Regions from separate parts of the Homo sapiens genome. Here region 2 is linked to region 1. Evidence: fine-mapped expression QTL. A gene starts in region 1. The other region holds a variant in brackets. All regions are shown on one strand. Distances are between the middles of the regions. Region 1 holds the start of DPY19L4 (dpy-19 like 4). Region 2 overlaps DPY19L4 (dpy-19 like 4).

Region 1 (5,380 bases):
CATCCACAAAAGTAACCTGCTATTTCAGACTTCAGTCCAGTCATCTTCATATGAAACAGTAGGGCTACAAACAGACTTTCAAATGTCTATCCAGGCTAGACATAGCAGTTTCCAAGTGAAATGTTAATACTGCTCTACTCAAGGTTGTCACTTCTTTCTTTGCTCTAACATTGCGTTCAGAAAGCATAAATATAAACACCCTGGCCCTCTACTGCATCAAGGAAGACATTTTTTTAAAGACCAGATTCCCAGAGTATTTACTTGGACAATGAAGAGGATCCAAGTGAATGTGAATGGTAAGCAAGATGGGACGCGGAGAACACCTGGATACAAGTAAAATACACAGACTATTTAGTCTAATTTTAACACAGCGAACAAAAGATAATACGGATTCTGGGGGAAAAAAAGTATAGAGTGACAAATAAACATAAAACACTCAGAATGCCTGGCACATAGACAGACAGGTTTGCTATATGTATTATTATTACTAGCATTATAATAAATGAAAATTTACTCATTCATTGTTGACTATTATATCCTTGCATCTAATAGGGTATGAATACACATATTTATGGAATTAGAAATGTGTTGAATAAAGCAATATTTTAATAAATTACAACCCATTAATTGTCCCATGTAAGATGTATTTAACTGCTTTTGAATTATATGTAATTCTACAACCAAAAATCATTTATCATTTTATTTATTTTATTTTTGAGAGGGAGTCTCACTCTGTCACCCAGGCTGGAGTGCAGTGGGGCGATCTCGTCTCACTGCAACCTCGGCCTCCTGGGTTCCATCGATTCTCTTGCCTCAGCCTCCCGGGTAGCTGGGACTATAGGCATGCGCCACCATGCCCGGCTAACTTTTGTATTTTTTAGTAGAGACAGGGTTTCACCATATTGGCCAGGCTGGTCTCGAACTCCTGACCTCGTGATCCGCCCACCTTGGCCTCCCAAAGTGTTAGGATTACAGGCGTGAGCCACCTTGCCCGGCCTTAATTTTATTTTTTTTTAGATGGAGTCTCACTCTGTCACCCAGGCTGGAGTGCAATGGTGCAATCTTGGCTCACTGCAACCTCCGCCTCCCGGGTTCAAGTGATTCTCCTATCTCAGCCTCCTGAGTAGCTGGGACTACAGACACTTGCCACTCCACCCGGCTGATTTTTGTATTTTTAGTAGAGATGGGGTTTCACTGTGTTAGCCAGGCTGGTCTCGAACTTCTGACTTCAAGTGATCCACTCGCCTTGGCCTCCCAAAGTGCTGGGACTACAGGCATGAGCCATCATGCCCCGCCCATTTATCATTTTACATCACGTAAGTAAAATTTACAAAACGGTACAATCTTTTAATATTGGCTCCACAGATCTATTTAAGTACAACCATAGTCTAAAATAATTTTTCATTTTGCATGATGTATTAAAGACTTTCAGTATTGTAGTACTGATTTTTTAATGCAGTCTTAACTTTTTTAATGCTTTAAGTTAAGCATGAATGTACTCATAGGAACCTACAAGCTAGTATATCAACCTACCCCCATAAATTTGCAATTAGAAAAGAAAAATACATCAAGAAATATTTCAAATGATGATATACTGTAACCACAGACAGAACCAAGTAAACAAATGGAATTACATTCTTTCTCACCAACGACAAATAGCTTTGTTTTTGAAGCTGTTTTTAGTTAGAATGTCTTAAATTCAGACCAGCTTTAACACTCTGAAAACTCAATGGAAACAAATATGAACCAAGCCTGCATAGGGACAGGTCAGCAAGTCACACATCAGTAAACACTTCTTATGCTTAATTTTTAAAAATTGCTTTCCGCTGAATCCTTTAAACTCCTTCCTTGCACTCTTGATTCAGAAAGGCTTGAGTCGGCTGGACCCGTGGCTCACGCCTGTAATCCCAGCACTCTGGGAGGCCGAGGTGGGCGGATCACCTGAGGTCAGAAGTTCAAGACCAGCCTGACCAACATGGAGAAACCCCGTCTCTACTCAAAATATAACATTAACCGGGCGTGATGGCGCATGCCTGTAATCCCAGCTACTAGGGAGGCTGAGGCAGGAGAATCGCTTGAATCCAGGAAGCGGAGGTTGCGGTGAACCGAGATCGCGCCTTTGCACTCTAGACTGGGCAACAAGAACGAAACTCCGTTTCAAAAAAAAAAAAGGCAGGGGGGCTTGAGTCTAAATTAGATCGATTTACTATCACATCCACAGCTCCACTCATAAGGTAAAAAGTTGTGTTTTCCACCAGAATGCAAAAATCTAATTGCTTCTCACTTCCTGAAACTAGTAGGGGTTATCATGAAGTTACTATGCCATGAGTATTCCTTGTATTGTTTATCACTAACCGATAAGTTTCATCTAACTTCCCATTTTTGTCTCATACTTATCATTTTCTATAAATAAAATACTGCTGAATGAATTACTTATCTTAGCATTGATCCTGAAGGCGGCATGGAAACCTTTCTCCAGCTCACCCACTTTGACCCTCAAAGGCCTCCTGGCCTCATCATCTCCCAAAACTATAATAATTAGATGGCTCTGCTCTTTACCATTTTCCCCTGAACCTAAGTGAACTTGGCTTTCTTCAGTTTCTGCGTGTTCGCCCATTCCCAATTAATCTTGCCACGTTTATCCCAAATCCCTGCCTCTTTATCCCCGTGGTGAATGTTCCCTCGCCCCCTGTGCCTCTGGGTTTGTCAATATCCACAGCCCTTTAAAAATCGCATTCCAAATATGCACTGAGTACCTAAACCTGATCTTCGAAACCAAACTGCGCCTCCCACTTCACCAAGAATCTGATCAGGACCCTCCCTCTTTCCCAACCACTCCCGGCACAGCTTTCTCTCTTGCTACGGATTCCCAACTTTCAGCTCCACCTTTGCTTCCCAATTCGGCCGACAAAACTTCGGGCCATTTGCTCCGCTCTCCTGAATTTCTCCGCAGTCCTCTCCTGGGCGCCGCGCTCCTTCCCGCCCTGCCCGCGCGGCCGCCACCGCGACCGCGGCCACCAGCAGCTCCAACCCAGACCTCCAGCGCCCCCGCCCCTCCTTCCCGAGACCACTGGCAGCCGTTGGCGCGCTGGACCCCGCGGCAATCACCTTCTTCCTCCGCCATCGTTTCTGCGAAGGCTAGGGCGCCCTGCGGCTCCCGCGCGGCCCAGACTCTCCCTCCCTCCGCGTCGCCGAACCCCTCGGCCTCCGGGGGCCCGCTCCTGGCCGCCGCGCCCCCACTTCCTGACCCACCCCCCTCCGGTGTCGCCGCCAACCGCGTCCCCGCAGGCGGCCCGGGAACCAGAGTGTTGGGAGAGGGGAGCGGCCGGAGCGTTTCGCTGGGGCGCCGGGGCCTGCGCGGGCAGGAAGGAGACTCCACGCCGGGAGTGCAGCCCACAGCTGTAGCTCCTGGCCGCCGCCTGCCCTGGAAAGCGAGACTGGTGGGTCTCGCTGCAGCCCCGCCCCTCGTCCTACTCTTCCCAAAAAGTGAGGGCATGCTTTCCGCCACTTTTGTGACTCCGCGACTTAGCGAGTCAGAGACGATCATCAGCGACACCTCCCAGGTCCAGCCTCCATTCCCGCCCCATTTTACATGGAGGAAACTCAGATCTAATGTGGTGGAAGTCACAAAGCCGGTCAGAGGCAGAAGTGGAACCCGGTGCTCCAGAACTGCCATCGCTGCCTGCGTTCTCGCTGGGATTTCAGAGTGCAGCAGCAAAACGTTCTCAGTTGGCGCTTTGGTTTCGTAGGCCACTTGACCATTACAAGAAAGAAGCTTGTGCTTGGAACTTGTTTTAAATCACCAAAACTGGTTTAGCAAATATGTTGCATTTCATGATATTCTGGGGGGGGGGGCGGGGAGATAATACAATGGTCTGGGGTAGAGCAGTGTGCAATTAGATATTACAGAGCAATAGGGAATAATTTTAATTTGTTAAACTGTGTTTAACTTTCATTATATCTAGCATTCTTCAACAAACACCGGGATCTTTTCCCCAACAGTACTCAGAAGTAAATTTAGTAAATGAAATATACCCATTTTAGATCGGGAGAAACAGGCACGAGAATTCACTGAAGTCATGGGGTAATTATGGACACCCCATTATTAGCAGGCAGCAAGATTCTCCTAATAGCACCTTTAAGTTAGGATATTTGGGGAGAGGCTATCATTTTTCAGTGATGTGCAGAAACGGTTCCAGGAACTTTTTTTTTTTTTTTTTGAGACAGAGTCTCGCTCTGTCGCCCAGGCTGGAATGCAATGACTCGATCTAGGTTCACTGCAACCTCCGCCTCCCAGGTTAAAGCGATTTTCGTGCCTCGGCCTTCCCAGTAGCTGGGACTACAGGCGCAAGCCACCACTTAATTTTCATATTTTTAGTAGAGATGGGATTTCACCATGTTGGTTGGCCAGGCTAGTCTCCAACTCCTGGCCTCAAGTGATCCGCCCACCTTGGCCCCCCGAAGTGCTGGGTTTACAGGTGCCCACCACCACGCCCGGATAATTTTTTGTACTTTTAGTAGAGAAGTGGAGGGGTGTGGTTTCACCATGTTGCCCAGGCTGGTCTTGAAATCCTGACCTCAAGTGATCCACCGGCCTCAGCCCCACAAAGTGCTGGGATTACAGGCATGAGCTACCACGCAGGGCCTCCAGGAACTCTTTTTATGTCTGGTTCCCCGTAAAGATGTTTTTTGCCTTAAAACAACACTTTACCAGGAGTTAGAAACAGTGGACCAGAAAAGGCCTGGTGCCAGAGCCAAGAGAGCACAGAATATAAGGACCCTGAAAACCACAGGATATGGTAGGGTCCCTGGACATGAGCAACAGTACCTGAGTATGCTGCTTATCAGATCAGCTGACTGAAAGAGCTGCACCTCTTGGAAAACATATAGTAGCTATTGAGGTCTGCTGTTTTCTAAGTCTAGAGTCTTAATATCCTACAGTTTCTTCACGGTCACCTCAAGTTGACTAATGGACTAAATTTTAAGTTTGCCTGACCTCTACAATAACAGGGGAAAGAAAAATGATAGAAAAAAAATAGCTTCTTAAAATAACAAATGGAAATATAAGATAAGATAGAGATAATTATGCCCTAGTAGAAACATTCTTCTCTTGAACCCTAAAAACCCACATTAGGGCCGGGCACGGTGGCTCATGCCTGTAATCCCAACACTTTGGGAGGCTGAGGCAGGTGGATCACCTGAGGTCAGGAGTTCGAGACCAGCCTGACCAACATGGAGAAACCCCATCTCTGCTAAAAATACAAAATTAGCCGGGCGTGGTGGCGCATGCCTGTAATCCCAGCTACTCGGGAGGCTGAGGCAGGAGAATTGCTTGAACCTGGGAGGTGGAGGTTGCGGTGAGCCGAGATCATGCCATTGC
Region 2 (5,380 bases), 31 kb before region 1:
CTCTGTCGCCCAGGCTGGAGTGCAGTGGTGCAATCTCAGCTCACTACAATCTCCACCTCCCAAGGTTCAAGCGATTCTCCTGCCTCAGCCTCCTGAGTACCTGGGACTACAGGTGCCTGCCACCACGCCTGGCTAATTTTTTGTATTTTTAGTAGAGATGAGGTTTCACTATGTTGGCCAGGCTGGTCTTCAACTCCTGACCTCGTGATCCACCTGCCTCGACCTCCCAAAGTGTTGGGATTACAGGCTTGAGCCACCGCACTTTCTTATGTCAAGTCATCTGCAGCCCTCTCTGTGAGTCTTCAAAATTATATTTTGACCATTTTCTGTTTAGCACAACAGTTCAGTAGCTAAGCAAAAACAAAAGAATTTCCTAGGAAGAAAGAGATAAAAACAGGGTAAAAAATAATTACACTTAAATATTTTTGTTCTTGTCAATATGTGTAACAATACTAATCACTATTATAAAAAATCAAGGATCTCCGTTGCCCTATAATCCATTCAAGTATTTATCCCTTATATAAATATTTTACAGAATCAAAACTCTTCAATTAATTTACATTCTGCTTTTTAAACTTAAATGTATTTTGCATGTTTTCCCTTCTTCATACTTATTCTTTTTTGAAAAATATTTTATTATAAAAGCAGTATATGTTTGTTAAAGAAATATTAGAAAATGTATACAAACAAAAAGAAGAAAAATCTTAAAACACCTATAATCTCATCCATTCAGAGGCCAACATTGTTAAATTTTCTGCCATAGCTTAGCCAGTACAGTACGATAAGGAAAAGAAACACAAGGAATCAAGTTGCAAAGGAAAGTAAAACTGTCAGGTTTTTTTTTTTTTTTGCAGAAGATACTGTGTACATAGAAAACCCTCAAGAATCTTCAAAAGCCGGGCACTGTGGCTCACGCCTGTAATCCCAGCACTTTGGGAGGCCGAGGTGGGCGGATCACGAGGTCAGGAAATCGAGACCATCCTGGCTAACATGGTGAAACCCTGTCTCTATTAAAAATACAAAAAAATTAGCCGGGCATGGTGGCGACCGCCTGTAGTCCCAGCTACTCCGGAGGCTGAGGCAGGAGAATGGCGTGAACCGGGGTGGCGGAGCTTGCAGTGAGCCAAGATCACGTCGCTGCACTCCAGCCTGGGTGACAGAGCGAGACTCCATCACACAAAAAAAAAAATCGTAAAAAAATACTAAAACTAATAAATGAATTTAGCGAGGCTGTGGGCTACAAGGTTTCTATTTTTTTTTTTTTTTTTTTTTTGAGATGGAGTCTCACTCTGTCACCCAGGCTGGAGTGCAGTGACACAATCTCGGCTCACTGCAACTTCCCCCTCCTGGGTTCACACCATTCTCCTGCCTCAGCCTCCTGAGTAGCTGGGACTACAGGCGCGTGCCACCATGTCCGGATAATTTTTGTATTTTTAGTAGAGAGGGGGTTTCACCATGTTGGCCAGGATGATCTCCTCGATCTCTTAACCTCATGATCCGCCTGCCTAAGCCTCCCAAAGTGCTGGGATTACAGGCGTGAGACCCTGCCCCCAGCAATCTAAGCTTTTAAAATGGGCAAAATACTTAGACATTTCACAAAATACTTGAATGACCAATAAACACATGAAAAGGTACCCAATATCATTAATCATCAGGGAAATACAAGAATATAGACGACATGGAACTCTCACACAATTTTGATAGAAAAATAGAATGGTACGATCACTTTAGAAAACAGTTTGGCAGTATCTTAAAAGTTAAATATACACCAGCCATATGACCTAGCCATTCTACCCAAAAGAAATGAAAGCATATGTCCCCACAAAACTGGAAACTACCCAAATGTCCATCAGTATCTGAATAAATGCACTATGATATATCCATACTATGTAATAGAACTTAGTGATAAAAAAGAATGAACTATTAATATAAACAACATACATGAATACCAAAATTATGCTGAGTAAAAAAAGCCGGAGCCCCACCACCAAAAAGTATATGCTGTATGACTCCATTAATATATAATTCTAGAAAACACAAACTAATCTATAGAGACTGAAAGCAAATTATGCTGGGCATGCTTGCTCACACCTGTAATCCCAGCTCTTTGGGAGGCTGAGGCGTCTGAATCGTTTGAGCCCAGGAGTTCGAGATCAGCCTGGGCAACATGGTGAAACCCCATCTCTACTAAAAATACAAAAATCAGCTGGCCGTGGTGGTGCGCACCTGTAATCGCAGCTACTTGGGAGGCTGAGGCAGGAAGTGCTTGAACCCGGGAGGCAGAGGCTGCAGTGAGCCGAGATCATGCCACTGCACTCCAGCTTGGG[C/T]GACAGAGTGAGACTCAGTCTCAAAAAATAAATAAATAAATAAATAAGAAACCAGACACAGGTTTCCTGGGAACAACAGCATAGTAGTGGTGGTTGGGTAAGAAAAGAGGGAGGTCCCGGGCGTGGTGGCTCACGCCTATAATGCCAGCACTTTGGGAGGCTGAGGCGGGTGGATCATGAGGTCAAGAGATCGAGACCATCCTGGCCAACATAGTGTAACCCCGTCTCTACCAAAAATACAAAAAAATAGCCAGGCGCGGTGGCGGGCGCCTGTAGTCCCAGCTACTCGGGAGGCTGAGGCAGGAGAATGGCGTGAACCCAGGAGGCGGAGCTTGCAGTGAGCCGAGATCACGCCACTGCACTCCAGCCTGGGCAACAGAGTGAGACTCTGTCTCAAAAAAAAAAAAAGAAAAGAAAGAAAAGAGGGAGGTATTAGAAAGGAAATTTTGGAGACTGGGCTTAGTGGCTCACGCCTGTAATCCCGGCACTTTGGGAGGCTGAGGCAGGCAGATCACTTGAGGTCAGGAGTTTGAGACCAGCCTGGCCAACATGGTGAAACCCAGTCTCTACTAAAAACATAAAAATTAGCCAGGCATGGTGGCACGTCTATAACCCCAGCTACTCAGGAGGCTGAGGCAGGAGAATTGCTTGAACCTGGGAGGTGGAGGTTGCAGTGAGCCGAGATTGCGCCACTGCACTCCAGCCTGGGTGACAGAGTGAGATCCTGTCTCAAAAAAAAAAAAAAAGGAAATTTTGGGTAGTGATGGATATGTTTATTATATTGATTGTGTTGATGATTTTGTGGGTATATTCAAATGCCTAAATTGATCAAATTGGACACTCTAAATATGTCCAGTTCATTCTATGTCAATTATACCTCAATAAAGCTGTTAAAAAAGCATTAAAATAGTTATTCACATATACATTCATAGAAGATAGGTTTGCATATATATACACACACACACACACAGATACACATATATATGCAAAAACAGGATCACATGTGAGAGTCAAATGAAACAAAAGCTGCAAGGAAGTTAGCAGTGCCTAGAACCTAGTAAACATTCAGTATTATAGCAAATCTTAGCTCTTTTCTAATTCTCTAACAAACTATTTTTTACTTAACAATATATTATGAACATCTTTCCAAGATACACGTCAATAAACATACTTCAAGAACAGTTAATGACCATGACACACCATCGTGTAGATCTACTATAATCTAACCAATTTCCTATTGTTATACACTTTGTTTCCAACTTTGTCTATGACAAATAATTTTTTAAAACATGAACCACGCGAGGCACAGTGACTTTGGGAGGCCAAGGCAGGTGGATCACTTGAGGCCAGGAGTCCAAGACCAGCCTGGCCAACATGATGAAACCCCATCTCTACTAAAAATACAAAAATTAGCTGGCTGTGGTGGTGCACGGCTGTAGTCCCAGCTACTCAAGAGGCTGAGGCATGAGAATCACTTGAACCCACTAGGGAGAGGTTGCAGTGAACTGAGATTGCACCACTGCACTACAGCCTGGGTTACAGAGCAAGACTTGGTCAAAAACAAACAAACAAAAAACATGAACCAATATTTTTATATAGTAATTATTGATTTCATTGTTTAAGCTCATTAATCCATCTGAAATTTATCTTAATGTACGTGCAATAAGGATTTATTTTCCAGATTTGGTTGTCCCAATACCATTTAATGAACATGATGTCTTCTGTAGGGAATAGAGAAGTTCTTCTTCAAAGTTTCTTAATCCATAAAGGGTTTATCATTCCCTGGTTAAATGTTTGTATGTGTATATTCCAAGGCTGCTCCAACTTGTTCTGGTAGGTTGAGATAAGGCTAAATGAGTCCCAAATTAGGATGCATGCCATTCCTTATTTGGAAACCCCTCTGACCTCTTATCACTAACTTCCTCTTTTCTTTGTCCTCTTTCCCTTCTCCCTATTTAGGAAAGTTTTAAATTATTCGCCAATCGAGTTAAGTTTAGAGTGTGAGGTCCCATCCCAGTCAATGGGAACAGGACACAGCTCTAGGGGGTTGCATCAGGATGTAAAGGTTATAAATGTCCTCCACTCCTTTGTTCAGTGTGCTCTCGTGGCTGGACTGCTGCCGAGTACACCCTTTCTGCAGAAAGTAAACTAGCCTTGCTGAGGGACCTTTGTCTCAATGTTGATTTCTTTGCAACATTGAACTCCCGTGCCCAACATCTTCTAAAGCAGCAGCCCCCAACCTTTTTGGCACCAGGGACTGGTTTTCTGGAAGACAATCCGTGGATGTGGGGTGATATGGTTTGGCTGTGTTCCCACCCAAATCTAATCTTGAATGTAGCTCCCACAATTCCCAAGTGTTGTGGGAGGGAGCCAGTGGGAGGTAATTGAATCATGGGGGCAAGTCTTTCCCGTGCTATTCTCGTGATAGTGAATAAGTCTCACAAGATCTGATAGTTTTATAAAGAGGAGTTTCTCTGCATAAGCTCTCTTCTCTTGTCTGCTACCATGTGAGACGTGCCTTTCACCTTCTGCCATGATTGTGAGGCCTCTCCAGCCACAAGGAACTGAGTCCATTAAACCTTTTTCTTTTGTAAATTTCCCAGTCTTAGGTATTTCTTTATCAGCAGTGTGAAAACAGACTAATACAGGGGAGTTGGGGAGATGGTTTGGGGATGAAATTGTTCCACCTCAGATCATCAGGCATTAGTTAGATTCTCATAAGGAGCACACAACCTAGATCCCTCAAATGCGCAGTTCACAATAGGGTTCGTGCTCCTATGAGAATATAATGCCTCTGCTGATCTGACAGGAGGCGGAGCTCAGGCAGTAATGCAAGCAATGGGGAGTGGCAGTAAATACAGATAAATCTGCAGTTGTCATCATCATCATCATCGTCATCATCATCATCATTGTCACTGCTGCTGCTGCTGCCACTCACCTCCTGCTGTGAGGCCAGGTTCCTAACAGGCCTCTGATGGGTACTGGTCTGTGGCCTGGGAGTTGGGAATCCCTGTTCTAAAGATGACCTATTTTCATATAATATTATCCCAAAA

The links. PIP is the estimated chance that this variant, and not a neighbour inherited with it, causes the effect.
Region 2: its variant is the best candidate, but not a certain one, in a credible set for the expression of DPY19L4 in whole blood (INTERVAL, PIP 0.78).

The regions. Positions count from the first base shown.
Region 1 is chr8:94,717,743-94,723,122 of GRCh38, reverse strand. It overlaps DPY19L4 (dpy-19 like 4), which reads right to left and starts at 3,223. Exons shown (of 19, transcript NM_181787.3): 1 at 3,109-3,223. The coding sequence starts at 3,124. RefSeq lists a silencer at 3,096-3,415 and an enhancer at 3,176-4,130.
Region 2 is chr8:94,748,479-94,753,858 of GRCh38, reverse strand. All of the region lies in intron 6 of DPY19L4 (dpy-19 like 4), which reads right to left. Among named protein-coding and RNA genes, the nearest start is that of DPY19L4, 31 kb to the right of the region's middle. The variant C/T (reference allele first, on the strand shown) is at 2,328.